7 linked regions of the Homo sapiens genome follow. The protein of the gene in region 6 binds, or shares a complex with, the protein of the main gene of each other region. Each region holds a gene or a part of one and is shown on either strand. Other genes may lie near its edges. A codon is read from its position in the direction of its gene.

Region 1 (3,500 bases), on a different chromosome or scaffold from region 6:
GCCTGGGCAATAGAGCGAGACTCTGTCTCAAAAAAAAAAAAAAAAAAAAAAAAAAGTATCTCTGTAGAGGCCATATTGGAAGGGATTATCTAAATTCAGTGATAATATATCTGTTTGGGGTTAGTTGTATCTGGTTAACATCTGACCTGAAGCCATTTGCCCAAAGGTTTAAACACTCCTTATGACAAGCTGCCACAAGGCAAGGGCATCAGATCTCTTTAGTCAAGGCAAGTTTCTCAGCCTGTATACTGATTATGTTTTGGGCTGGATAATTATTTGTTGTTGGGGCTGTCCTGTGTATTGCAGCGTCCTGGGCCTTTGCCCACTAGATGCCAATAGCATCCCTTTCCCCAATGTGGCAACCAGAAATTACCAAATGTTACCTGAGAGCAAATCCTCTTTTACTTCTCCCATCCACTATTGAAAATCAGAGTCAAGGGTCAAGGACTACAAGACACTAGAGCCCCAGCCTTTTATGAAGGCATCTGAGCAGGACATTGACTGGGTGTCTGCATTCTCTTCACGCTGAAAGAATTCCACCCCTGAATAGAGAGGCCAGCTTTTATGCCTTATACTGCTATTAAGTTTATCATTGTCTGATTTTAAAACTATATTTTAACTTAATGCTTATAATTTTAATTCTTCTCTTCTGCTGTTTATTATGTTTACTTTGCTAACTGTATTGACTTATTCTTTATTCTTCCAGTATTTATAGTTAATCTCCCTTATTGTATAATATCACAACTTTTTTATATTGTTTGTAATTTTAGCTTTTTTGATATCCTCTTGGTTGGTCTTATTTATTCTTTCATTATCATTTTGTTGCATTTTCATTATGTTACATAGAGAATATTAATAGTTTATAATATTAAATAGATCACATGGGAAATAGTCACTCCTTTATCACTTTGAATTCATGGGTATATTTATGCATTTTCTTCTTATTGAAGTTCTTGAGGTTTTGTAGAAGATATTTGAGGCTCTTGGTGTTTTCTTGTTTTTTGTTTCATCATTTAAAATTATCCACCATCTGGCACGCACCTGTAGTCCCAGCTACTTGGGAGGCTGAGGCAGGAGAATCGCTTGAACCTGGGAGGCGGAGGTTGCAGTGAGCCGAGATCGCACCACTGCACTCCAGCCTGGCAACAGAGCGAGACTCCGTCTCAAAAAAAAAAAAAAAATTATCCACCATCCCCCATAGTAGAGTGGGTGCAAACTTCTGAGGAAGTCGTTATACATGCTCGTTTCATGTTTTTCTTCTTTATACATGCTCCTGTTTCATGTTTTTCTTTATACATGCTCGTTTCATGTTTTTCTTCTTTACCTTGTGCCTTTCTTGTTTTTCTTCTTTACCTTGTGCGTTTCTTCTTGTTTCATGTTTTTCTTCTTTACCTTGTGCCTTTCCTCCTTTTCTGCAGTGATAAGATTCATGGGTGTTGTCATAGGAAGCAGTCTACTTTCTTCCTGTCAACTCAGTACTGATCATTGCAAATTAAATACTTGTATGTTCATTTAAAAACTAATTACTGGTTTTCCAAAGAAGCATCCCTATTGTGGGAAGAGATCTTTAATGGTAGTTGGAAAGTATAGTGATAAATAAAATCCCCTCTATATATTCATATATTACCTAATCTGTATATATGTAATTTCAAGACTTGTATCTGAAATAATCAAACCTAATGATTGTTTTTTTCAAGTGTGAGAACATGTGCCATTAAATATTTTCTCTTAAAAGTCAAGGAATAGTGATATGACCTATTTTTTGTGGATTAAAATCATGTGGATGAATCTTATAGGTGTAAGAGCTCTCATTTGACAGAATAAACTTCACTAAGGAAATAGCCTATGGAAAAAATTGTATAGGATACAGCAATAACTATATTAACTTACCTTATGTTCTCCAGACTTTTCTTCACAGGAATTAGAGATTTTCATTTGCTCCTTTTCCTCCTCCTGGCTTCAAATGTTTGTTGCAGAGGCAGTCTTTAAAAAGTTGTGTCTACAGAGCTCTGGCAGTGTTTCTTCTGAGCCACTCTCTCTTCAGAAAATGGTAAGTACCTCTCTATTCTGGTTCTTTACATTTTCAAGAAGTGAGTTCACAAACTCAATTTTATTTATTTAGTTATTTATTTATTTTGAGATGGAGGCTTGCTCTGTCGCCCAGGCTGGAGTGCAGTGGCGCAATCGCGGCTCACTGTAAGCTCCGCCTCCCGGGTGCATGGCATTCTCCTGCCTCAGCCTCCCGAGTAGCTGGGCTACAGGCGCCCACCACCATACCCAGCTAATTTTTTTGTATTTTTAGTAGAGACGGGGTCTCGATCTCCTGACCTCGTGATCTGCCTGCCTCGGCCTCCCAAAGTGCTGGGATTACAGGCGTGAGCCACCACGCCTGGCCCACAAACTCAATTTTAAAAAATTCTTAGTTATTTCAAGTAAGTAGGCAGAATATATTAATTCATAAATATTTCAATTCTGTATAAAAGCTAGTATATTTCTGTCTCTAATTAGAGTAATGAAAGCCAGCGGCCGTGCTGAGTGCCTGTAGGTGAGTGCCTGCAGGTGAGTGCCTGTAGTTCCAGCTACTCAGGAGACTGAGGCGGGAGGATTGCTTAATCCCCAGAATTTGAAGCTGTAGTGCATTATGGTTGCACTTGTGCATAGCCACTGCATTCCATCCTGGACAACATAGTGAGACCCCTTCTCCAGGGGCAGTGGGGGGAAGGTAATCACCAAATAGAAATTTTAAGGCCGAGCATGATGGCCCCTGCCTATAATTCTAACACTTTTGGAAGCTGAGGCAGGAGGATCCCTTGAGCCCAGGAGTTCGAGACCAGCCTGGGCAACATAGCAATACTCTGTCTCTAAAAAAAAGTTAAATTAGCTGGGCATGGTGGCACATGCCTGTGGTCCCAGCTACTCGGGAGGCTGAGGTGGGAGGATCCTTAATCCCAGGAGGTCGAGGCAGCAGTGACCTGTGATAACCACTGTACTGTAGCCTAGGTGGCACACTAAGACCCTGTCTCAACAACAACAACAACAACAACAACAACAAAGAAAGAAAAGAAAGGAAAAAGAAATTTTAATTACTTTTGAGCGTAGCCAAGGGTTGATCATAGAAAACTAAAAAATCCTTGTTTCCTAATAAAATTCCTACATAGGTTATTATTTTGGAAAGAACTAGATCCAACAAAATTCTAAATGGTATTTAAAAAGCAAAATATTATGCATATAAGCTACATTTGATTTAAAGTTTTCCAGTTTTATTTTGGCTATCTTTAGATATTAATATTTAATAATAATTATTTATTATTATTAATAAGGCAATATTAATTTAGATATGTAGATATTAATATCTATCTTTAGATATTAATATCTTTAGATATTAGTCAAATTCTGTTTTGCAACAATCCTTTAAGGATGTTTTTATTCCTTATTTTGTTTTCTGTTGAAGAAAGACTTGTTTTCTGTTCAAGGCATTATCAGAATGGAAATTACAAAAT
Region 2 (4,098 bases), on a different chromosome or scaffold from region 6:
TTTAGTTTCACATAATAAAATTAGTTAAAATGTACTTATACTATCATAAAATCCCCTGCAAAAAAACTTTGCTTTTCTCCTGTTAATCTAAATTGAGGTTAGTTTTTAATTTGTTTGTAGATGCTTATGGCTAGACTTAGAATTGGCAATCCCCTCAGCTCTAGTTTTTAGAATATGAGTTACTCAAGGTCAAGGCCAGGATTATAGCTAGACTTAAGTACATTTAAATGTCAGAGCCACTGCCAGAGGCTGCCCTGTGTCATCAGATGGCTTGGTCTACCCTCTGTCAGGCTTGTAATAATTGCCCAAACCTTCTAAATTAAGTATCTTGTCTGAGGAAGTTTCTCTCTCACACATATTGACACTCATATTTTCTTTTAGAATCTTTTGAAGACTGTTGTTAAAAAAAGTCAAAACTACAACATATTTCAGTTGGAAAATTTGTATGCAGTAATCAGCCAATGTATTTATCGGCATCGCAAGGACCATGATAAAACATCACTTATTCAGGTAAACTCTTGAGTGGAAACTTTTTACAAATGCTCTTGTGGTCACATTAATATATCACTTATGTAGGATTGTTGAGGCTTTATTTAATCTGTGTAAGAAACTGATTGTAGGAACTTAAAGACCATCTTTCTATTTCCAAAGTTGATGTCCCATTCCATAAAGATCATTTTTAATATGTGGATTATGAATTATTTCTAAATGCAAGTGAGTTTAGTATTTTTCCAATCTATAACTTAATTAGTTTGTTTGTTTATTTATTTATTTATTTAGAGACAGGGTCTCTGTCGCCCAGGCTGGAGTGCAGTGGTGCGATCTCAACTCACTCACTGCAGCCTCCACCTCCAAGGTTCAAGCGATCCTCCTGCCTCAGCCTCCCAAGTAGCTGGGACCACAGGCACCTGCCATCATGCCCAGCTAATTTTTGTGTTTTTTGTAGAGATGAGGTTTCACTATGTTGCCCACGCCGATCTTGAGCTCCTGAGCTCAAGCCATCCAGCCACTTCAGCCTCCCAAAGTACTGGAATTACAAACGTGAGCCACTGCACCCAGCCAATAGTTTGTGTCTTTAATAAATAGTGGAACATAAACTATGAATACCCCTTTTGTGTGTATGTATTAATGAAGAATAATAGCTTCTTTTAAGACTTGTCAGCCAGGCACAGTGGCTCATGCCTGTAATCCCAGCACTTGGGGAAGCCAAGGCGGGTGGATTGCTTGAGCCCAGGAGTTCAAGACTAGCCTGGCCAACATGGTGAAACCCCATGTCTACTAAAACAACAAAAACTAGCCAGATGTGGTGGTGTGCACCCATAGTCCTAGCTACTCGGGTGGCTGAGGCATGAGAATCACTTGAACCTGGGAGGCAGAGGTTGCAGTGAGCCAAGATCAAGCTACTGCACTCCAGCCTGGCTGACAGAGTAAGACTCTGTATGACAAAAAAAAAAAAAAAAGACTTATGTACTTAATCTTCCTTTATAGTAGGTATTATAGTGTTAATTAGAGCATTAATACTTATTTTTGAGACAGGATCTTTCTCTGTGTGCAGTGGCAAGAACATAGCTCACTATAACCTGGAACTCCTGAGCTCAGGCAATCCTGCCTCAGCTTCTCAAGTAACTGAGATTATAGGCAAGCACCACCACACTGGGCTAATTTTTAAATTTTTTGTAGAGATGGAGGTTTTGCTATGTTGCCTAGGATGGTCCCAAATTCGTAGCTTCAAGCGGTCCTCCCGCCTCAGCCTCCCAAAGTGCTGGCATTAACAGGCAGGAGCCACCATGCCTGGCCTTATTATTATTTTTAATAACAGATCATTTCACTAGAGAGTGCTAAATTTTAAAAAAAGATATTACTTACATATGCATATTATTGGTAACTACAAAATATAAAAATGATAACCATTAGTATATATATAGTATTTAGTATACCTACTAAAGTATACTATGTAGTATATATATAATATTGATACCTACAAAGTGTAAAATACTAAACTCTAACTACATCAGTACCTTGATTAATACTATTTGAATTTAACATAAGATGAATGCACCCCAGACTCATTTCAAAGTTATTTAAATAATGAAGTCCTACAGGTAAAATCTATGTGGCAGTCTTAAATACTGAACTGAATGTTTATTTTCACTATCAAATATATACCTGAATATTAATATTCTTAAGGTTGTTTACTGAAAAAGTAATGAAATGTTTCTTTAGCTTATTCCATATTGAAACTTACTATTTGCTCTTCCTCCCCTTTATCTAGAAAATGGAGCAAGAGGTAGAAAACTTCAGTTGTTCCAGATGATGATGTCATGGTATCGAGTATTCTTTATATTCAGTTCCTATTTAAGTCATTTTTGTCATGTCCGCCTAATTGATGTAGTATGAAACCCTGCATCTTTAAGGAAAAGATTAAAATAGTAAAATAAAAGTATTTAAACTTTCCTGATATTTATGTACATATTAAGATAAATGTCATGTGTAAGATAACTGATAAATATTGGAACTTTGCTAGAACAAGACCCTGTAGTAATAGTAATAATAGTTGAAGTTTGGCCAACTCTTAATAAAGTTATTTTGGTAACTAATGTTTTATGGCACTTAAGAATAATTAGCAGCGTTAAATTTTGTTTGTATTAAGCACTTTTAATTTTATCCTTCCTAAAAATAGTTTATTGTATCTGACAAGAAACTTACTTAACCATTGTGTCCTTCCCATCTTTTTTGTCATCTTTGTTTTCTTCAAATGCCCTCCTCCCATCTGCCTTGAGATTCCCTCGTCTTCACTTAAAAGCCAGAGTGCAAGTCATGATTTGCGGGAGGGCTCTTGAACCACTTCTGGCTGCACCACAATTCTGTACTTGAGTATCACAGTCATTGTTTTTGAGACAAACATTTTTATAATTCTAATTTGGGTTAATAAAGATTTTAAATATTTCTTGGTTTACTTTTGTAATTATATACACAACAAATGTATTAATAACTACCTTGTTAAACACCTTTTAATAGCACAAGGTTTTTATATTTGCAAGCTGTTGATATCTTTCTAAAACTGTTTAGGTTATAGTCTATTGATACTTTTTATATACAATTTTATAAATATAAATATTATAATTTTATATTAATGGTACCAAAAATACATTTCTTAAGGTTAAAAGCATGCACTTCCATGCATACTTGCTTTTGGGGAGAGTGGGGAGAAGACATTCTAATAATCAGTTTGTGAAATAGCTTCTGTTGGAAACCTTTTGAGGGGAATAAGGAATGGTCATCTAAAATGAGAGATTCTGGATTTTAATGCAGTTCAAAGTTGAGCTGTATTTTTGTTGTTGATTTATCTGGATTTTTTTTAAAGCCTTCTAAAACCCAGTGAATTCAATACCTTAATTAGTACATACTATCTTATGTAATGCATAAAGCAATGCCAGTCACTGAGAACATTTAAATATATTTATATTCCTGGAGATACACATTCTCATTTTTGTTGGTTTATTATAAATTATTCTTCTAGATGCATCTTTTATAACTAGGATTTCATTTTGTGTGTATAGCTTATGTAATAAATTTTAAAGGTGAAAACTCTCTTAAATTTGTTTCTATTTCTTAAGTATTTTAAAACATAGCAAAGATAATTCTGTGCAAAAGAAGTGTAAAGTCTGTTCTTTCATATATTACTGTGAAAATTTAAAGTGCTGTTGACACTGGAATGTTTTTATATGGTACATGTATTTTAGGTACAACGACTAAAGTGCTTCCTGAAATGTCTTCTACAGATTTTAGAAGTGTTATGTCTACATTCCTATGTAGAGTTTGAAAACCATGCTGAAATTGCAGTGTTGAATGTTATCTCCCATTTGTTGCTCAAAAGTGCAGTTAACGCAAGAAAAACAAAAGGAACTCAGAAAGGAAAAAGTGAAATTCTCTTTATTTACAAATGCCATGATTTTATATGTAGGAAATCCTTTTTTGAGACAGAGTCTTGCTCTGTCGCCTAGGCTGGAGTGCAATGGCATGATCTCGGCTCACCACAACCTCTTCCTCCCAGGTTCAAGCGATTCTCCCGCCTCAGCCTCTTGAGTAGTTGGGACC
Region 3 (3,500 bases), on a different chromosome or scaffold from region 6:
AAGTAAGAATATTTATGTTGCTTAGTAGGAAAAACATCAACAATCCAGAGTTCCAGTTCAAGCTCCCCCAATGGTCAGCCAGTTATCTGTCCACAAGCAACACTGTTCCTCCAGATCCAAGTTTCCCAATCTATAAAATAAAGGTATTGAATAACTAAAGTCCCCACAAAATTCTGATTTTAAATAATCTTATATTCATATTTTACAATTTCAAAAGCATCTTCATAGATACTGCCTCATTTGATTCTCACAATGGACTTGTGACTTTATGGGGTAGGCAGAGAAAATATTCTTCTGATTCCCAACTAAGAAACTCAGGTTAGAAAGGTCAAGTACCCTGGCCAACTTAAAGGTGAGATAAAAGAAGGAACCTAGATCTCCTGAATTTTGTCTTTCAATACGTGCCAAATTACCTATGGGGTGTGTGTGTGCTAAACTGTAAAAAGCTTAGGGTTTTAGATATGTAATGCAAACACCAAGTAAGGAGGATCACTAAGGTCTGAGCAGTTACCAAAAAGGGGTCCAGAAATTTAAAATTCTCTAGGCGCTCTCTCTTCTGTCCAGAACTGTAATTCAACTAGAAACCCTGAATACCAGGAACATGCTGGAGAACTGGAAAGCAAAAGTAAAAACCATCCCCTAAACTCCCAATGACCAAAACTGATGGCGCAAAGTCCATGTACTAAGTAAGCTCCATATACATGTGAATCCCTCAAAACTTATTTACTCTTGCTTTTCTAAAATACATTTTTTATGCACAAAATGCACAAAACACCAAGTATAATTTAAAAATTATAAAGTAAACATCTATAAAACCGCCACTGTGGTCACCATTGCCAGTGTCCTAGAAGTCCCCATATGACTCACCCGGATTTCAATTCCCTCCCTCTCCCCTAGAGGTAAGCACTATCCTCACTTTGATGATAACACTGTATTTCATTACTACTTCGGTATGTATCTTAGGTATATATAAGGCCACTGAGGTTCACAAACTCAGGAGCAATATTCACAAAGAATACAATGGGAATAGTGCCCCCTCCAGGCAGGCAATGCAGCAGCCCTGTATCCCTACACAAAATAGCTTAGTTTTGCCTATTTCTGAATCTTATACAAATGAAATTATAACATGTATTTTTTTTGGCAGCTACTTGCTTCTTTAGCTTACCATTATATATTTGTGAGAATCATCTGCATAGTTCTGTGTGGCTGAAGTCTATTCATTTTTATTGCTGTAGGAATATACTACAATTTACTTAGCTAACTGATTTTGATAGACACCTGAGTTGTTCTTAGTTTTTGATTCTTATGAACAATGCTGCTACCAATATTTATGCCATGTATTCTGGTGCTCACATGGCCAACAACTTCTCTAGGGATATACCTAGAAGGTATACTGGGACCTTGGGCATACACAGCTTTGACTTTACCAGACCATGTCCAGGAAGTTTCCAAAATGGCTGAACCGACTGATAGGCCCACCAGCTGTGCATGAGAATTCTTTCTGCTCTATGTCTTTGCTAACTCTTGGTTTTGTTGGACATTTAAATTTGTACCAATCTCTTAAGCATATGGTTTTAATATGTACTTCTCTCATTATTAATAAAGTTCAGCAGTTTTTTGGAATTTGGGACATTTAGATTTCTTCTTTCCTCATAATGTTGGTTTGTCCTTTTTTTTTTGTTTTTCTTTTTTTTGAGACGGAGTCTGTTGCCTAGGTTGGAGTGCAGTGGTATATCTTGGCTCGCTGCAACCTCTGCTTCTTGGGTTCAAGCAATTCTCCTGCCTCAGCCTCCCAAGCAGCTGGGATTACAGGCGTACACCACCACGCCTGACTAATTTTTGTATTTTTAGTAGAAACGGGGTTTCCCCATGTTGGCCAGGCTGGTCTGAAACTCCTGACCTCAAGTGATCCACCTGGCTTGGCCTCCCAAAACCTTGGCCCCCCAAAGTGCTGGGATTACAGGTGTGAGCCACCGCACCTTGCCTGTTTGTCTTTTTTCCTATTGATCTATCTGGATTTTTTTCTTTCTTGATTTGTAGTAATTCTTTATATATTCTGGATATGTAATAGTCCTTGGTTGGTTCTTTTCTCATTTTCTTCACTCTCTCTGTAGTGAGTTTGATGAACAGAGGTTCTTACTCTTATTTTTAAAGTAGTTGAATTTATAAATCTTTTCATTTATGGTTAGCATTTTCTATCTGTTTAGGAAAGCTATGAAGATATTCTTCTATCTTCTAAAGGTATTATAGTTTTACCTTTCACAGTTAGGACTTTCATCCTCCTGGAATTGAGTTTATGTAGAGTGAGGTAATAATGGTCCAATTTCACAGTTTCCCATGTATATTCAATTGTCCTGGCACCATTTACTGAAAAGTCATCTCTTCCTCAATGATCTGCAATGTCACCTTTGTCATATAACAAGTGTCCACATACATGGGGTTCATGTTCTGCACTCTCTACTGTTCTGTTGGTCTATCTGCCTCTCCTTATGTCTGTACCTCACTATATTAATTAGTGAAGTATTATATACTAAGTTTTTTGGTTTTTTTTAGATGAAGTCTTGCTTTGTCACCCAGGCTGGAATGCAGTGGTGCAATCTCAGCTCACTACAACCTCCGCCTCCCAGGTTCAAGCAATTCTCCTTCCTCAGCCTCCTGAGTAGCTGTGATTACAAGCGCATGCCACCACGCCCAGCTAATTTGTTTGTACTTTTAGCAGAGATGGAATTTCACCATGTTGGTCAGGCTGGTCTCAGACTCCTGACCTCAAGCAATCCACCCGCCCTGGCCTCCCAAAGTGCTGGGATTACAGGCGCAAGCCACCATGCCCAGCCTATACTAAGTTTTGATATCAAGTTATCATATATAGGGCAAATAATCCTGTTCTTCAAAGGTACAGATATTCTTAATACTTTGTACCTCCATATAAACTTTCAGTATCAGCTTGTGAAGTTTCACTAAAAACAAAACCTCTTGGGATTTTGATGGGAGCTGCATTCAATTTATTAATCAATATTAGAAGACTTGCTAACAATATCGAGTCTTGCAAGGAAGCAGCTTAATGTACTCAAATTTTATTTGTCTCATGGAGATTAGCCAACTAATAAAATTTTGGTGTTTAAAAGGGTTATCTGTCTCACTGTTTTAGCTCACTGTCTAAAGATTACTCTAGTAGTTGGGGTTTATTATATCCTGTCTAAGAGGTATTTCTGCTTGACTCCAGGAAGCAACCATTTCTTCAAATCAGCACATTTAAAAACGTATCAAAATAAGTTCATGTTTTTAAACTTACCGCAAGAATAAATAAGATCACCTCTAAAGTTAAAATAAAGCTTATGTTACTTACGTGGCCCTGTGTTAACTGAGTAAGTTGAGCCATGGTGAGCTTCACTTGTCCTTGTTGGGGGCGAGGGGGTTGTGAGGCTGAAGACTGTATATTTGAAGTGGACGTTGCTGAAGTTAAGCTTTTCTGCCCAGGTGTTGAGGAAACCGTGTTAGGG
Region 4 (3,500 bases), on a different chromosome or scaffold from region 6:
TCAGAACAGTATTAAATCTATTTATTAGATGTATAGTTAAAAACCTTCCAACAAAGAAAACTCAAGGCACATAAAACTTCACTGGTGAATGCTACTGAACATTTAAAGGAATAATGCAGTCTTATACAAATTCTTCCAGAAGATAGAGAAGAAACAGTTCCCAACTCATTTTATGAGGCCAGGAAACCTTGATACCAAAATCAAGCAAAGACGTATGAAAAAAGAAACCATTACCTGTCATGAACAAAGAGTCTTAACAAAACATTGCCAAGTCAAATCTAGCAAAGCAGAAAAAGGATAATATACTGGCATGCAAGGCTAATTTAACACTTAAAACCTCATCAATGTAATTCACCACATTATCAGAATTAAAGGAGAAAAATCTTATGATTATCTTGATAAAGAAAAAGCATTAGAAGGTAACACTTTCATAATAAAAACTCTCACCAAACTAGGAATAGAAGGAAACTTCCTCAACCTGATAAAGGGCACATATGAAAAACCTACAGCTAACATCATAGTGAATGGTGAAAGGCTCAAAATTTTCCTTCTTCAATTGGGAATAAGGCAAGGATGTCTACTCTATCACTTCCATTTGACATTGTAATAGAGGTTCTGGCCAGTGCAGTAAGGCAAGAAAATGAAACACAAGTGGCTCTCCACATATGCAGGTTCCACATCCACTGATTCAACCAATTACGGATCAACATGAGATTGGCTGAATCCTCAAACACAGAATCTGCAGATACAAAGAGCTGACTGTACTATATGGCTGTTTTTCCCCCCCGAGACACAGTCTTGCTTTGTCGCCCAGGCTGGAGTGCAGTGGCACAATCTCGGCTCACTGCAACCTCCACCTCCTGGGCTCAAGCAATTCTCCTGCCTCAGCCTCCCAAGTAGCTGGGATTACAGGTGTGTGCCATCACGCCCAGCTAATTTTTGTATTTTTAGTAGAGACGGAATTTCACCATGTTGACCAGGCTTGTCTTCTCGAACTCTTGCCTCAGCCTCCCAAAGTGCTGGTATTACAGGCGTGAGCCACCATGCCCGGCTATATGGCTATCTATCTATCAAGACAGGGTCTCACTCTGTCACTCACACTGGAGTGCAGTGGCACAATCACAGCTCACTGCAGCCTAGAACTCTTGGGCTCAGGCAGATCCTCCCACCTCAGCCTCCTGAGTAGCAACTACAGATGCACACCATCATGCCTGGCTAATTCTTGTATTTTTTGTAGAGATGGGGTTCTGCCATGTTGCTCAGGCTGGTCTCAAACTCCTGGGCTCAAGCAATCTGCCTGCCTCAACCTCCCAAAGTGCTAGATTACAGATGTGAGCCACCATGCCCAGCCACACTATGGCATTTTGTATAATGGACCGGATCATCGGCAGATTTTGGTATTCACGGGGGATCGTGGAACCAAATCCCTGAAGATACCAATGGACAACTGTATAAGGCAAAGAAAAACTGTGACTTTCTTCATTAACAGGTAATGTTTGTGTGCAGGAAATCTGAAATAATCTACATCTAAAAAAAAAAATCCTATAGCTGGGTGTGGTGGCTTATGTCTGCAACCCTAGCACTTTGGGAAGCTGAGGCAAGAGGATTGCTTGAGCCCAGGAGTTCAAGACCAGCATGGGCAATATAGTGAGGCCCTGTCCCTAGAAAAAAAAAAAAATTTTGCCAAGCATGGTGGCACGCACCTATAGTCCCAGCTATTCAGGAGGCTGAGGTGGGAGGTTCGCTTGAGCCTGGGAAGTCAAGGCTATAGTGAGCCACAATCACGCCACTCTACTCCAGCCTTGGCAATGGAGTGAGCCACTCTCTCAGAAAAAGCCCAGAATACAAAAAACTACAATAATAAGTGAATTTAGCAAGGTTGCAGAATACAAAACAATTACACAAACTGTGCCATTGTGTGTCCATGCATATGCACATGCACACACATAAAACAAGCAATTGGAAGAGAAAATGTTTAAAGTATATCATTTTTAGGTCAGGCACAGTGGCTCACATCTGTAATAGCACTTTGGGAGGCCTAGGTGGGCAGATCACTCGAACCCAGAAGTTCAAGACCAGTCTGGGTAACAAGGCGAAACCCTGTCTCTACAAAAAATACAAAAATTAGCCAGGCATGGTGGTGTATGCGGAGTCCCAGCTACTCGGGAAGCTGTGGTAAGAGGATCACTTGAGCTCGGAGGCAGAGGTTGCAGTGAGTGGAGATCACGCTACTGCACTCCATCCTCGGTGACAAAGTGAGAACATGTCACACATACAAAAATAAATAAATAAAAAAGTATACCATTTTTAAGAGCATCAAAAATCAAAAGATGTAGATTTACTCAGATAAATTTAACAAAATACATGCAAGACTGAAAACCTGAAACATTTCTAGAATACAGAAATACATCATGTTCATATACTGGAAGGCTCAATGTTATTAAGATAGCAATTCTCCCCACATTCAATTTTAGATTCAATGTAATCTTAAGATTAGTCAGAACTTTTTAAATAGAAATTAACCACCTGATTCCAAAATGTATACAGAAATAAGGTCAAGAATAATCGAAACAATCTTTAAAAAATAAAGATGTGGGACTCACACTACCAGGAATCAATAGAAAGTTACACTAATCCAGACAGTACGATATTGACAGAAAAACAGACAATGAATGAGAAAAGTCCAGATGTAGATCCACACGTGTAAGTTCAATATTTTTTTGTTAAAAACGCACCAAGGCATTCACACAAATTATACTGAAACAAGTGGATATCCACATGGAACAACAAACCTTAATCCCTTTCCTCATATTGGACATGAAAAATAACATGAGATGGATCATGGACATAATTTTAATAAGCTAAAACTAAAAACCTTCCAGAAGAAAACATTAGGAGAGCTTCATGATCTCCTTGGGGTAGACAAAGATATTAGGCATGAACCAGAAAACACTAATAGAAATTTTTAAAATTAATAAACTGGACATGATTAAAACTAAAAACTTCCAGTTATACAAAAAAAGTTGAGAATATGAACAGGCAAACCACAAACTGAGAGAAAAATGTGCACAAAACATGTAATCTGCATAAAGGACTCATCCAGAATATGTAGGTAAATAACACCTACAACTAATAACAAAAAGACAAATAACCTAATTTTAAAATGGGCAAAAGATGTGAATACATGAGTCCAAAAGGAGATAGTCGATAACCACATTAAAAAAACAATCCTTAATAGCATTAGTTATGAGGGAAAAGACAATTAAAACCTATTTAATCTTTACAACCACTATGAAGTACTATTAACAAAGAAATACTACTATAAACCCAGTAGAATGCCTAAAACTTTAAAAACTGACAACATAAAATGTTGGTGAGGATATGGAATAACGAAAATTCTAATACACTGTTGATGTGAGTATAAAAGTACTTTGGAAGTCAGTCTGGCCAAGTATCCCATAAAGTTAAACATACAAATACCCTATTGACCCAGCAAATCC
Region 5 (3,500 bases), on a different chromosome or scaffold from region 6:
TGATCTTTGCCATGAACTATTAGGTAATTTTATAAGATTCGCAGTTCATATGGTAAATTATTTTCTCCCAAAGAGCCAAATTAAGATTGTCAGCTGGAACCAAATCCTTGCTTTCGTTTTAAAGCATATTAAATCTGTATTATTGTTGGAAAATATATATAGTTATTTTCCAGCTTGTTCCCCAGTGCACATATTTTCAGTTACAGTGATTATTTTGGATAGAGCATATATGTGTGTATATGCTCTATCACATATATATATATAGATGTGTTAATATGCTGTGTTTTATTTTGACTTGAATTAGGTAATGACAGAATTTTTAAATTTTTAAGTGATTTCTTTAATGATACGTTTCAAATATCCAGATTTTTTTTTTTTTAAGACTGATTGGATATTTTTCCTTTTTTCTAAATTTTTTTTTTTTTTTTTTTGAGATGGAGCTTCACAGTTGTTGCCCAGGCTGGAGTGCAATGGTGCGATCTCGGCTCACTGCAACCTCTGCCTTCCAGATTCAAGCGATTCTCCTGCCCCAGCCTCCCAAGTAGCTGGGATTACAGGCATGTGCCACCATGCCTGGCTGATTTTTCTTTTTCTTTTTCTTTTTTTTGAGACAGAGTTTTGCTCTTGTTGCCCAGGCTGGAGTGCAATGGCGCAATCTTGGCTCACCACAACCTCCGCCTCCTGAGTTCAAGTGATTCTCCTGCCTCAGCCTCCCGAGTAGCTGGGATTACAGGCATGTGCCACCACATCTGGCTAATTTTGTATTTTTAGTAGAGATGGGGTGTCTCCATGTTGGTCAGGCTGGTGTCGAACTCCCGACCTCAGGTGATCCACCCGCCTCAGCCTCCCAAAGTACTGGGATTACAGGTGTGAGCCACTGCGCCTGGCCTAATTTTGTATTTTTAGTAGAGGTGGGGTTTCACCATGTTGGTCAGGCTGATCTCAAACACCTGACGTCAGGTGATCCACCCGCCTTGGCCTCCCGAAGTGCTGGGATTACGAGCATGAGCCACCATGCCTGGCCCCAGCCCCTTCTTTCTAAATTGAAGGAGACATAATTTCTAAGGATATGTTAAGAAAACTAGGAGCTAAAATATTAAATCACACCTAGGATCTTTAAGCTTAATTCAAATACATAGAAATATATCCTCAACTGATAGGTACTATGCACTGTAAAGAGAGAAGATGAGTTAGTGTCCAGATCCTTTTTTGGGAGGTGCCGTAAGTATTTCAGCTATTTTACCTGACTTTTTTTTCTTTTATTTGAGAAAGTTCATGATAGTTTTATTTTATTCCTTAAAACATTTAACATAATCTGGGAAATTTTTTTCTCTTCTTTTGTCAAAGCAAAAAGCCAGAGATAACAGAGCTGCTTTACGCATTAATAAAGTACAGATGTCAAATGATTCCATGAAAAGGCAGCAACAGCAAGATAGCATTGATCCCAGCTCTCGTATTGATTCGGAGCTTTTTAAAGATCCTTTAAAGCAAAGAGAATCAGAACATGAACAGGAATGGAAATTTAGACAGGTATGGAATTTTTGGATAATCTACTTTTTGAAGTTGCATTTTTGTTTTGAGAAGGGAGGTCTTTGCATTATTATTTTAGAATATAGTTCTTAGACCATGAAAATTTGATTTAGGATAGACTTGTTTCTCTTTTCAGTAAAATATATTTAAATTGATTTGAGAAATTTATTGAAATATTATAAACAATATACTGCCCTAGGCACAAATGGAACATACCATGATGAGTAATTTCTCTTCTTCAGGAATTCATAATCTAATATGGGAGCAATCTGGTAGCGCTGACATCAAACAAATTAACTTTCTGTTGCTTTTTCCCCCCATGATGGTAGTTTTCTTCCTTAACCTAAATATGATTGCTTTTTCTTTTCTATTTTAATAGCAAATGCGTCAGAAAAGTAAGCAGCAAGCTAAAATTGAAGCCACACAGAAACTTGAACAGGTGAAAAATGAGCAGCAGCAGCAGCAACAACAGCAATTTGGTTCTCAGCATCTTCTGGTGCAGTCTGGTTCAGATACACCAAGTAGTGGGATACAGAGTCCCTTGACACCTCAGCCTGGCAATGGAAATATGTCTCCTGCACAGTCATTCCATAAAGAACTGTTTACAAAACAGCCACCCAGTACCCCTACGTCTACATCTTCAGATGATGTGTTTGTAAAGCCACAAGCTCCACCTCCTCCTCCAGCCCCATCCCGGATTCCCATCCAGGATAGTCTTTCTCAGGCTCAGACTTCTCAGCCACCCTCACCGCAAGTGTTTTCACCTGGGTCCTCTAACTCACGACCACCATCTCCAATGGATCCATATGCAAAAATGGTTGGTACCCCTCGACCACCTCCTGTGGGCCATAGTTTTTCCAGAAGAAATTCTGCTGCACCAGTGGAAAACTGTACACCTTTATCATCGGTATCTAGGCCCCTTCAAATGAATGAGACAACAGCAAATAGGCCATCCCCTGTCAGAGATTTATGTTCTTCTTCCACGACAAATAATGACCCCTATGCAAAACCTCCAGACACACCTAGGCCTGTGATGACAGATCAATTTCCCAAATCCTTGGGCCTATCCCGGTCTCCTGTAGTTTCAGAACAAACTGCAAAAGGCCCTATAGCAGCTGGAACCAGTGATCACTTTACTAAACCATCTCCTAGGGCAGATGTGTTTCAAAGACAAAGGATACCTGACTCATATGCACGACCCTTGTTGACACCTGCACCTCTTGATAGTGGTCCTGGACCTTTTAAGACTCCAATGCAACCTCCTCCATCCTCTCAGGATCCTTATGGATCAGTGTCACAGGCATCAAGGCGATTGTCTGTTGACCCTTATGAAAGGCCTGCTTTGACACCAAGACCTATAGATAATTTTTCTCATAATCAGTCAAATGATCCATATAGTCAGCCTCCCCTTACCCCACATCCAGCAGTGAATGAATCTTTTGCCCATCCTTCAAGGGCTTTTTCCCAGCCTGGAACCATATCAAGGCCAACATCTCAGGACCCATACTCCCAACCCCCAGGAACTCCACGACCTGTTGTAGATTCTTATTCCCAATCTTCAGGAACAGCTAGGTCCAATACAGACCCTTACTCTCAACCTCCTGGAACTCCCCGGCCTACTACTGTTGACCCATATAGTCAGCAGCCCCAAACCCCAAGACCATCTACACAAACTGACTTGTTTGTTACACCTGTAACAAATCAGAGGCATTCTGATCCATATGCTCATCCTCCTGGAACACCAAGACCTGGAATTTCTGTCCCTTACTCTCAGCCACCAGCAACACCAAGGCCAAGGATTTCAGAGGGTTTTACTAGGTCCTCAATGACAAGACCAGTCCTCATGCCAAATCAGGATCCTTTCCTGCAAGCAGCACAAAACCGAGGACCAGCTTTACCTGGCCCGTTGGTAAGGCCACCTGATACATGTTCCCAGACACCTAGGCCCCCTGGACCTGGTCTTTCAGACA
Region 6 (2,390 bases):
GAAATGAAGCCCAAAACAGTCAATCGTGAACTCTAAGCCGATCAGGTGGGAAAGCCGGCATCTCTAGAATGAAAACCTAAGGCTGCTTCTCCCACTTTGCCTGAGCAAATATAGTGAGATTACACAGCAAGGCATGTGTAAATTGCCAGTGCCTATTTCTCAGAACCAGATTTGGTGATCGCAAAGACTGACGTGGCCCTCTAGGTGTGCCTATACTGCACCAGAAGAGCAAGCCGAGAAAGCAGTGCTCAAACCTAGAGCATTCAACCTTTCATACCGATAAAGGCTTTAAAAAAAAAAAAAAAAAAAAAAAAAGCCCAGGTAAGTGAAAAAGCCGCTTTCGGTCAACGACTTAAGTCTTTACGGCTGTGAGCGCTATGGGCCGCGGTAGCTTTCCGTTAACTTCAGATCCGATTGTCGCCCCACTGCCAAAGTTACCTTCCAACATCGTTACTGTTGCACTTTACGCAGTCAAGTGTCCAACTCCTCAGATGAGCAAGTGGTCGGCCCTAAAAAGGGCCTTTGGGATCGAAACGTGCAAAGCTGGAGCGGCGGCCTAGCCTCCGAAGCCGTACAGGGTGCGCCCCTGGCGCTTGAGCGCGTACACCACATCCATGGCTGTGACGGTCTTGCGCTTGGCGTGCTCGGTGTAGGTGACTGCGTCCCGAATCACATTCTCCAGGAACACCTTCAGCACACCGCGGGTCTCCTCGTAAATGAGGCCAGAGATCCGCTTAACGCCGCCACGCCGAGCTAGACGCCGAATGGCAGGCTTGGTGATGCCCTGAATGTTGTCTCTCAAGACCTTGCGGTGGCGCTTAGCGCCCCCTTTGCCTAAGCCTTTTCCGCCCTTTCCTCTGCCGGACATGACCGCTGGAGCCCGATAGACAGCTTCTGTCAAGGCGAGCACCGTCTTCCCCTGATATACAAGAGTATCGGACCAGATTGAAAACCGAAAGCGCGCCGGCGGGAAGCGTTCTCAATTGTCCCCGCCCTCTCGACATTTCGTCATTTCTTTTCTGTTTTCCTCTCCCTCCTCCTCCACTCTGCTCAGGTCCCTCTCACTCTTTTTTTTTTTTAACCGCTACGCCACAGTCCCCGGGAGAATTCAGATCCCAACCGGGGCTTCCGGATTCTGTAGTGGCTTTGGCCTGTGTCTGGTCTGAGGACGCCCGGAAGGCATTGCACTGAGGCTAAGGGAAAGGTCTCTGGAGGGAGCCTCAGGAAGAGCAAATGGAGGCCAGAGACTGGCAGGAGCGCGCCAGCGCAGGATTTAATCCCGACGAGCGGATTCAGAGCCGTGCTTATATAAAGCTTCAGGAAGCGCCGTTCCGACGATGAGGTCGACACGCGAGAGGCGACCTCAAGAGCGGCGGCGCCAGGGATCTGTGCGCCAAGGGAGGACGGGAGGGAGCAGGTTCGCCATAATTCCTGGCTCCAGGCTCTGTTTTGTTGGACCGAGCCACTGTATTTTAGCTCACACAGGAGAATTCTGGCCCTGGGAAAATTGGTCTCAGCATGCTGCCAAGCTTTCTCATGGACGTCAGCGAATCCCAACACACTGTCGGTCAAAGCCGTGCTGGAAGAAACAAAACAGTTCTCCCTCGGTAGAACTGAGAGGGGATTGGTCCAGGGCCCCCGCCGATACCAAAATCCAGGTTGCTCAAGTCTCTCATAGAAAGTGGCGTAGTATTTGCACATAACTATGCACATCCTCCCGTGTACTTTAAATAGTCTCTAAATTACTTCGTAACACCTAATCCAGTGTAAATGCTATGTAAGTAATTGTTATACTGTTTTTATTTTTACTATCTTTTGTTGTACTTTTTTTTAAAAAAGAAATTCATTTGTTTAATATTTTCGGTCTTGGGGAACCCGCGTATATGGAGGGCCTGCTACATAGAGAAGACTGAGGGATATTCTGTGCATCCGTTTCTACGGATCCTCTAAATCGGCCTTTGTTTTCAGCCAGGATTTAGTGCCCAGCTGTGTCCTTTGGAGGCCCCACATGGAGCTAGCAAAGTTTGCTAAATCGGGTTTTGCAAGAGGACTGTCTGCTCCATACTGGGAGTAGTTACCGCAAACTGCCCTATGAAATTGGTTGGGGTTCTTACTGTTAGCATGTTTATTACTTTATCAGGGCTCTCTGTAGGAGAGTCTATGAGAAAATCTTCTGGTTTCTGCTGAAAGAATCGTGTTTTGTTGGGGTTTTTTTCCCGAAAAATATTATTTTTAAAAACTCTTCTGTGCCCTGTTTAATCTCTCCCTTGGATCCACCTTCTGTGTGCTCATAAATCGTAAATCTGTATTCAGACTTCTGGACTCGAGACACGTAGATCCACCTGGTGGTTCTTCAGTCATTTTAAGCCCAAAACTCAAAATCTCCCGAA
Region 7 (3,500 bases), on a different chromosome or scaffold from region 6:
GAGCTAATAGCAAAGCAGTGCTCCACCCCACGCACCAGCCCTCACTAAGGCTGACCCCCAGAGCGAGCTCCTGGGGTGTTGCTGACGAAGGCATGTCCCTGCCCATTGTTGTCCATGAACCAAACACACAAGGGACAGCAGGTCTACATGCCGACACCTCAGCATCCCGCCTCCTAACACATGCATGTCCCCGGTGCACAGGGAAGGCTGCCCCAGCAGGAGCCCCTATCAGGCCTGTCTTCTGGACAACCCCACTGCTGCCATGCCACAGGCAGGTGCCCCCTCCTGGGGTGGAACTCAGCTGCGCAAAGCCTGTCTCGGACGCGGTAACCTCCCGTGTCACCCTTAGGAGATGGAACTCAAGCATTAACTCACCAGACACCAGTGAGACCAGCTACACTCCAGCGGGAGCAAGTCCGAAGACAACAGGCCAGGAGCTCTGCTTAGGAGCCACCTAGGGCGTAAACCCACGCCACCCCCTGCCCGCGCCTCCTCTGTCCTGCGAATGACACTCTGGGGCGCCGTCCAGCAGGTGGCTGCCTCTCAACCACCTGTGCAGTGAGCACGAGTGTGTGTGGCGGAAGCGGCCCAGGCCCCACGCTCCGCCTACAGCCCATCCGGCACCCACCTCACAGACGTGCTCTCATATGGGACAGGCACCAGAGTGGCAGTATGTCCCCAGCCGGCTCCCGGCTGCCTCACCCATGGCAGCAGCCCACGCAAGAGCCACCTCCATTCACCGCTTTTCCTCACTGGTCACAATCGCCTGTCCCAAGTTCTGGGGCTGCAGCCTTCAACGTTCGTCATCGCTCTCCCTGCACCTACAGCTACAGCCCACACCCACGCCACCATCATCTCTTCCCCAGACAGCCGCACAAACCCGCACACAGCGCGCCTCCTCCCACCGCCTGGCGGGTCCTCTTCCAGCACCTTCCTGTGGTGGGCGGGTCTGGCCCACACGCCACCTCCCCAAGGCTCCTTCCCCTTCAGAGCTCTGCCACGCTCAGAGCACACCATGCTTGGGTCTGGGTTCTTTTTGTTTCACATCCTACCAGGACACAGCCACTCCCTTGGGGGCGGAGATGGGGTTTTGTTTGTTCTGAAACGGAGTCTCGCACTGTCTCCTGGGCTGGAGTGCAACGGCGCAATCTAGGCTCACTGCAACCTCCGCCTCCCGGGTTCAAGCGATTCTCCTGCCTCAACCTCCCTCGTAGCTGGGATTACAGGTGCCCCCTCCCACAACCGGCTAAATTTTTGTATTTTTAGTAGAGATGGGGTTTCACTGTGTTAGCCAGGCTGGTCTCCCTTTCCTGACCTTGTGATCCGCCTGCCTCGGCCTCCCAAAGTGCGGGGTTACAGGTGTGAGCCACCGCGCCTGGCCAGGGATGGGGTTTTGTTTGGCTCAGTCTGCACTGCCTGGCACTCAGGGGCAGCGCCAAGGAGAGAGGGCAGCAGGGCATGAGCATCATGTGCAGAGTGGCCACCAAACACGGAATAAGGCCTGGCAACCCTGTGCCTCCTCGACTCACTTTTTACATCAGCGGGTTGTGTCCTGACTGCCCCATGTCCCATTTTCTGTCTTCCTCTCTTCCCTCTCCGAGTCTAAGTGGACCCCCAGCTCCCCAGAGCATCCACTGTGCAGAGAGTGCAGAGCCCACACTGCTGCCCACCAACGCCCTGTGCTGCAGGTGGTGTCGACGTGCATGTGTGAACGGAGACACCACCACAGGAAGGACCTAACAGTCGACACGCGCCTCCCAGCCTGCCACCCTGCAGCTCCAGCGGGACACGTGGGCAATGGAGCTCAGAGAAGGGTCTGTACCTCAGTGGTTTCACTGGCTGCAGTGCTCTCTTCCTTTTTCCTCTCCTCTTCTTCTTGTTCTAGTTCCTTAATGCTCTCTTCTAACACATTGGGCCAGAAATCACCTTCAAAATAGGGCAGTTCCTTGGCACTGGTGAGCCTGTCTTCAGTTGCTTGTTTGAAAATATCCTGAGTGGGCAAAGCACAACAGTGAGATGAGGGCCATGCACGCGTGCCCCCCACCATGGTGCGACAGACCCCCACGCAAGCGTGCCCCTCACCATGGTGTGGCAGAGTCCCATGCATGTGTGCCCCCCCACCACAGTGCAGCAGACCCCCACACATGTGCACCCCCCACCACAGTGCTGGAGCCCCTATGTGTGCAACAGTGATGCACAGGCCCCAATGCCCACTGATGGAAACAGCTCCAACTGTGCTGCTCTCAGACGGCCAGGGGAAAGCCTCAATCAGCTGAAGAAAATGCTTCTAAGTTCTCACTTTAGGCTTTTATTTTTCTGCTTTCTAATCCTCATAAGTGAAGGTAATTAACAAGTATGCGAATGCAAGAAAAAGGCACACAAATATCCTCCCCTCAGTTGTGACAAAAGCCACCACCTTCCTTCAGCGCCGGGTACCTTGTAGTCATGGATGATCCGCTCTGCAAACGCCTTGTCCAGCATCTTTTTGTACCACTCCTGCAGTCGTTTTGGCTTGGGTATTTTTTGATCAGGTGGGTGGCAATGGAAGATGTAATCATCTCCTTCACTTGGAGGACAGGCCCAGATGTGCCCTGTCACATACCTGCAGGACCCACGCACACACGTCAGATGAACGTGCCAGTGAAATCGGCCCTGCCTTTAAGGAGTTATAGCAGAGGAGCAAGGACTAAAGCCAGGACAGAAGTAACCAGAGAGAGAGAATGAATGCCCACAAAGCTGGGTGTGGTGGGGGCAAGGCTCGAACTTTATCCTGAGCAAATGCAAGCCTGCAAATTAGCCCTGCAACACTTCTCCCTTGGGGTGCACACACAGGGCAGGGCCGAGGCTGCAAAAGAAACCTGAGGCCTCATTAAAGAACCAGGGAATATGATGGCTCATCAAGGCAATGCCATCCCCTTCCTCCTGTGCACTGTAAAGGCAGTTCGGTTGACTATTTTTCTCCAAGGGTCAATGTCAACATAAACCTCATTCATTCTGTTCAAGACACTTTGATCAAATGCCCCTATCCTTTTCAAGTTTCAGAAGGGAATGGGGCAGGTCTAGAGTACAGAAACCAAGGGCTAGAGAAGGAAGCCAGACCCAAGACAGCATACGCTGCAGGGTTCCGTTTACACAAAGGATTCACAAAAGACAAATTCAGAGAGACAAAGTAGATTAGTGGTCGCCTGGGGCAGGGAAGGTTTAACAGCAAGGGGCAGGAGGAACATTTTTTTTCTTTTTTCTTTTTTTTTTTTTGCGGGCGGGGGGCAGAGTTTCATTGTTGTTGCCCAGGGTGGAGTGCAATGGCATGATCTCGACTCAGCGCATCCTCTGTCTCCCTGGTTCGAGTGGCTCTCCTGCCCCCACCTCCTGAGGAGCTGGGATTACGCTAGGCACCCGCCACCACGCCTGGCTCATTTTTTGTATTTTTAGTACAGACAGGGTTTCACCATGTTGGTCAGGCTGGTCTTGAACTCCTGATCTCAGGTGATCCACCTGCC

The links.
Region 1: the proteins of H4C15 (region 6) and SLF1 are in contact, whole or in part, in a crystal structure (PDB 8PEF), measured with the Homo sapiens proteins. Residues at the interface, in NP_001029249.1 of Homo sapiens: Ala16 (codon at 823), Lys17 (codon at 820), Arg18 (codon at 817), His19 (codon at 814), Arg20 (codon at 811), Lys21 (codon at 808), Val22 (codon at 805), Leu23 (codon at 802), Arg24 (codon at 799), Asp25 (codon at 796); in NP_115666.2 of Homo sapiens: Asn804, Leu805, Lys806, Glu808, Asp838, Asn839, Ala840, Trp842, His846, Glu847, Asn850, Tyr851, Val873, Asp874, Asp881, Asn885.
Region 2: the proteins of H4C15 (region 6) and ATAD2 are in contact, whole or in part, in a crystal structure (PDB 4QUU), measured with the Homo sapiens proteins. Residues at the interface, in NP_001029249.1 of Homo sapiens: Arg4 (codon at 859), Gly5 (codon at 856), Lys6 (codon at 853), Gly7 (codon at 850), Gly8 (codon at 847); in NP_054828.2 of Homo sapiens: Val1008, Phe1009, Val1013, Asp1020, Tyr1021, Ala1060, Glu1062, Tyr1063, Asn1064, Pro1065, Asp1066, Asp1068, Gly1070, Asp1071, Ile1074.
Region 3: the proteins of H4C15 (region 6) and BPTF are in contact, whole or in part, in a crystal structure (PDB 3QZS), measured with the Homo sapiens proteins. Residues at the interface, in NP_001029249.1 of Homo sapiens: Gly15 (codon at 826), Ala16 (codon at 823), Lys17 (codon at 820), Arg18 (codon at 817), His19 (codon at 814), Arg20 (codon at 811); in XP_047291553.1 of Homo sapiens: Pro2951, Phe2952, Val2956, Asp2960, Ala2961, Asp2963, Tyr2964, Val2967, Cys3003, Arg3004, Tyr3005, Tyr3006, Asn3007, Pro3008, Pro3012, Phe3013, Tyr3014.
Region 4: the proteins of H4C15 (region 6) and HAT1 are in contact, whole or in part, in a crystal structure (PDB 6VO5), measured with the Homo sapiens proteins. Residues at the interface, in NP_001029249.1 of Homo sapiens: Lys6 (codon at 853), Gly7 (codon at 850), Lys9 (codon at 844), Gly10 (codon at 841), Leu11 (codon at 838), Gly12 (codon at 835), Gly14 (codon at 829), Gly15 (codon at 826), Ala16 (codon at 823), Lys17 (codon at 820), Arg18 (codon at 817), His19 (codon at 814), Arg20 (codon at 811); in NP_003633.2 of Homo sapiens: Asn30, Glu54, Tyr55, His57, Gln58, Asp62, Glu64, Glu187, Thr188, Ala189, Ser190, Ile192, Asp196, Trp199, Tyr225, Arg237, Ser239, Gln240, Glu276.
Region 5: the proteins of H4C15 (region 6) and KMT2C are in contact, whole or in part, in a crystal structure (PDB 6MLC), measured with the Homo sapiens proteins. Residues at the interface, in NP_001029249.1 of Homo sapiens: Gly15 (codon at 826), Ala16 (codon at 823), Lys17 (codon at 820), Arg18 (codon at 817), His19 (codon at 814), Arg20 (codon at 811); in NP_733751.2 of Homo sapiens: Leu1084, Tyr1094, Arg1095, Glu1096, Glu1097, Asp1098, Leu1099, Ile1100, Leu1101, Gln1102, Trp1109, Glu1120, Val1123, Ala1127.
Region 7: the proteins of H4C15 (region 6) and CREBBP are in contact, whole or in part, in an NMR structure (PDB 2RNY), measured with the Homo sapiens proteins. Residues at the interface, in NP_001029249.1 of Homo sapiens: His19 (codon at 814), Arg20 (codon at 811), Lys21 (codon at 808), Val22 (codon at 805), Leu23 (codon at 802); in NP_004371.2 of Homo sapiens: Pro1110, Phe1111, Val1115, Leu1119, Leu1120, Gly1121, Ile1122, Asn1163, Ala1164, Tyr1167, Asn1168, Ser1172, Arg1173, Val1174, Phe1177.

What each region holds. Positions count from the first base shown.
Region 1 is NC_000005.10:94,684,669-94,688,168, forward strand, and holds part of SLF1 (SMC5-SMC6 complex localization factor protein 1), read left to right. Parts: intron 1-1,904; coding exon 1,905-2,050; intron 2,051-3,500. UniProt on the Homo sapiens protein: Plays a role in the DNA damage response (DDR) pathway by regulating postreplication repair of UV-damaged DNA and genomic stability maintenance.
Region 2 is NC_000008.11:123,319,350-123,323,447, reverse strand, and holds the end of ATAD2 (ATPase family AAA domain-containing protein 2), read left to right. Parts: intron 1-381; coding exon 382-510; intron 511-2,272; coding exon 2,273-2,314; 3' UTR 2,315-3,598; downstream 3,599-4,098. UniProt on the Homo sapiens protein: May be a transcriptional coactivator of the nuclear receptor ESR1 required to induce the expression of a subset of estradiol target genes, such as CCND1, MYC and E2F1.
Region 3 is NC_000017.11:67,940,503-67,944,002, reverse strand, and holds part of BPTF (nucleosome-remodeling factor subunit BPTF), read right to left. Parts: coding exon 3,347-3,500; intron 1-3,346. UniProt on the Homo sapiens protein: Regulatory subunit of the ATP-dependent NURF-1 and NURF-5 ISWI chromatin remodeling complexes, which form ordered nucleosome arrays on chromatin and facilitate access to DNA during DNA-templated processes such as DNA replication, transcription, and repair.
Region 4 is NC_000002.12:171,928,961-171,932,460, reverse strand, and holds part of HAT1 (histone acetyltransferase type B catalytic subunit), read right to left. Parts: intron 1-3,500. UniProt on the Homo sapiens protein: Histone acetyltransferase that plays a role in different biological processes including cell cycle progression, glucose metabolism, histone production or DNA damage repair. Coordinates histone production and acetylation via H4 promoter binding.
Region 5 is NC_000007.14:152,181,004-152,184,503, reverse strand, and holds part of KMT2C (histone-lysine N-methyltransferase 2C), read left to right. Parts: intron 1-1,347; coding exon 1,348-1,530; intron 1,531-1,909; coding exon 1,910-3,500. UniProt on the Homo sapiens protein: Histone methyltransferase that catalyzes methyl group transfer from S-adenosyl-L-methionine to the epsilon-amino group of 'Lys-4' of histone H3 (H3K4).
Region 6 is NC_000001.11:149,860,264-149,862,653, forward strand, and holds H4C15 (histone H4), read right to left. Parts: upstream 897-2,390; 5' UTR 869-896; coding exon 557-868; 3' UTR 501-556; downstream 1-500. UniProt on the Homo sapiens protein: Core component of nucleosome. Nucleosomes wrap and compact DNA into chromatin, limiting DNA accessibility to the cellular machineries which require DNA as a template.
Region 7 is NC_000016.10:3,734,214-3,737,713, forward strand, and holds part of CREBBP (CREB-binding protein), read right to left. Parts: intron 2,603-3,500; coding exon 2,437-2,602; intron 1,991-2,436; coding exon 1,823-1,990; intron 1-1,822. UniProt on the Homo sapiens protein: Acetylates histones, giving a specific tag for transcriptional activation. Mediates acetylation of histone H3 at 'Lys-18' and 'Lys-27' (H3K18ac and H3K27ac, respectively).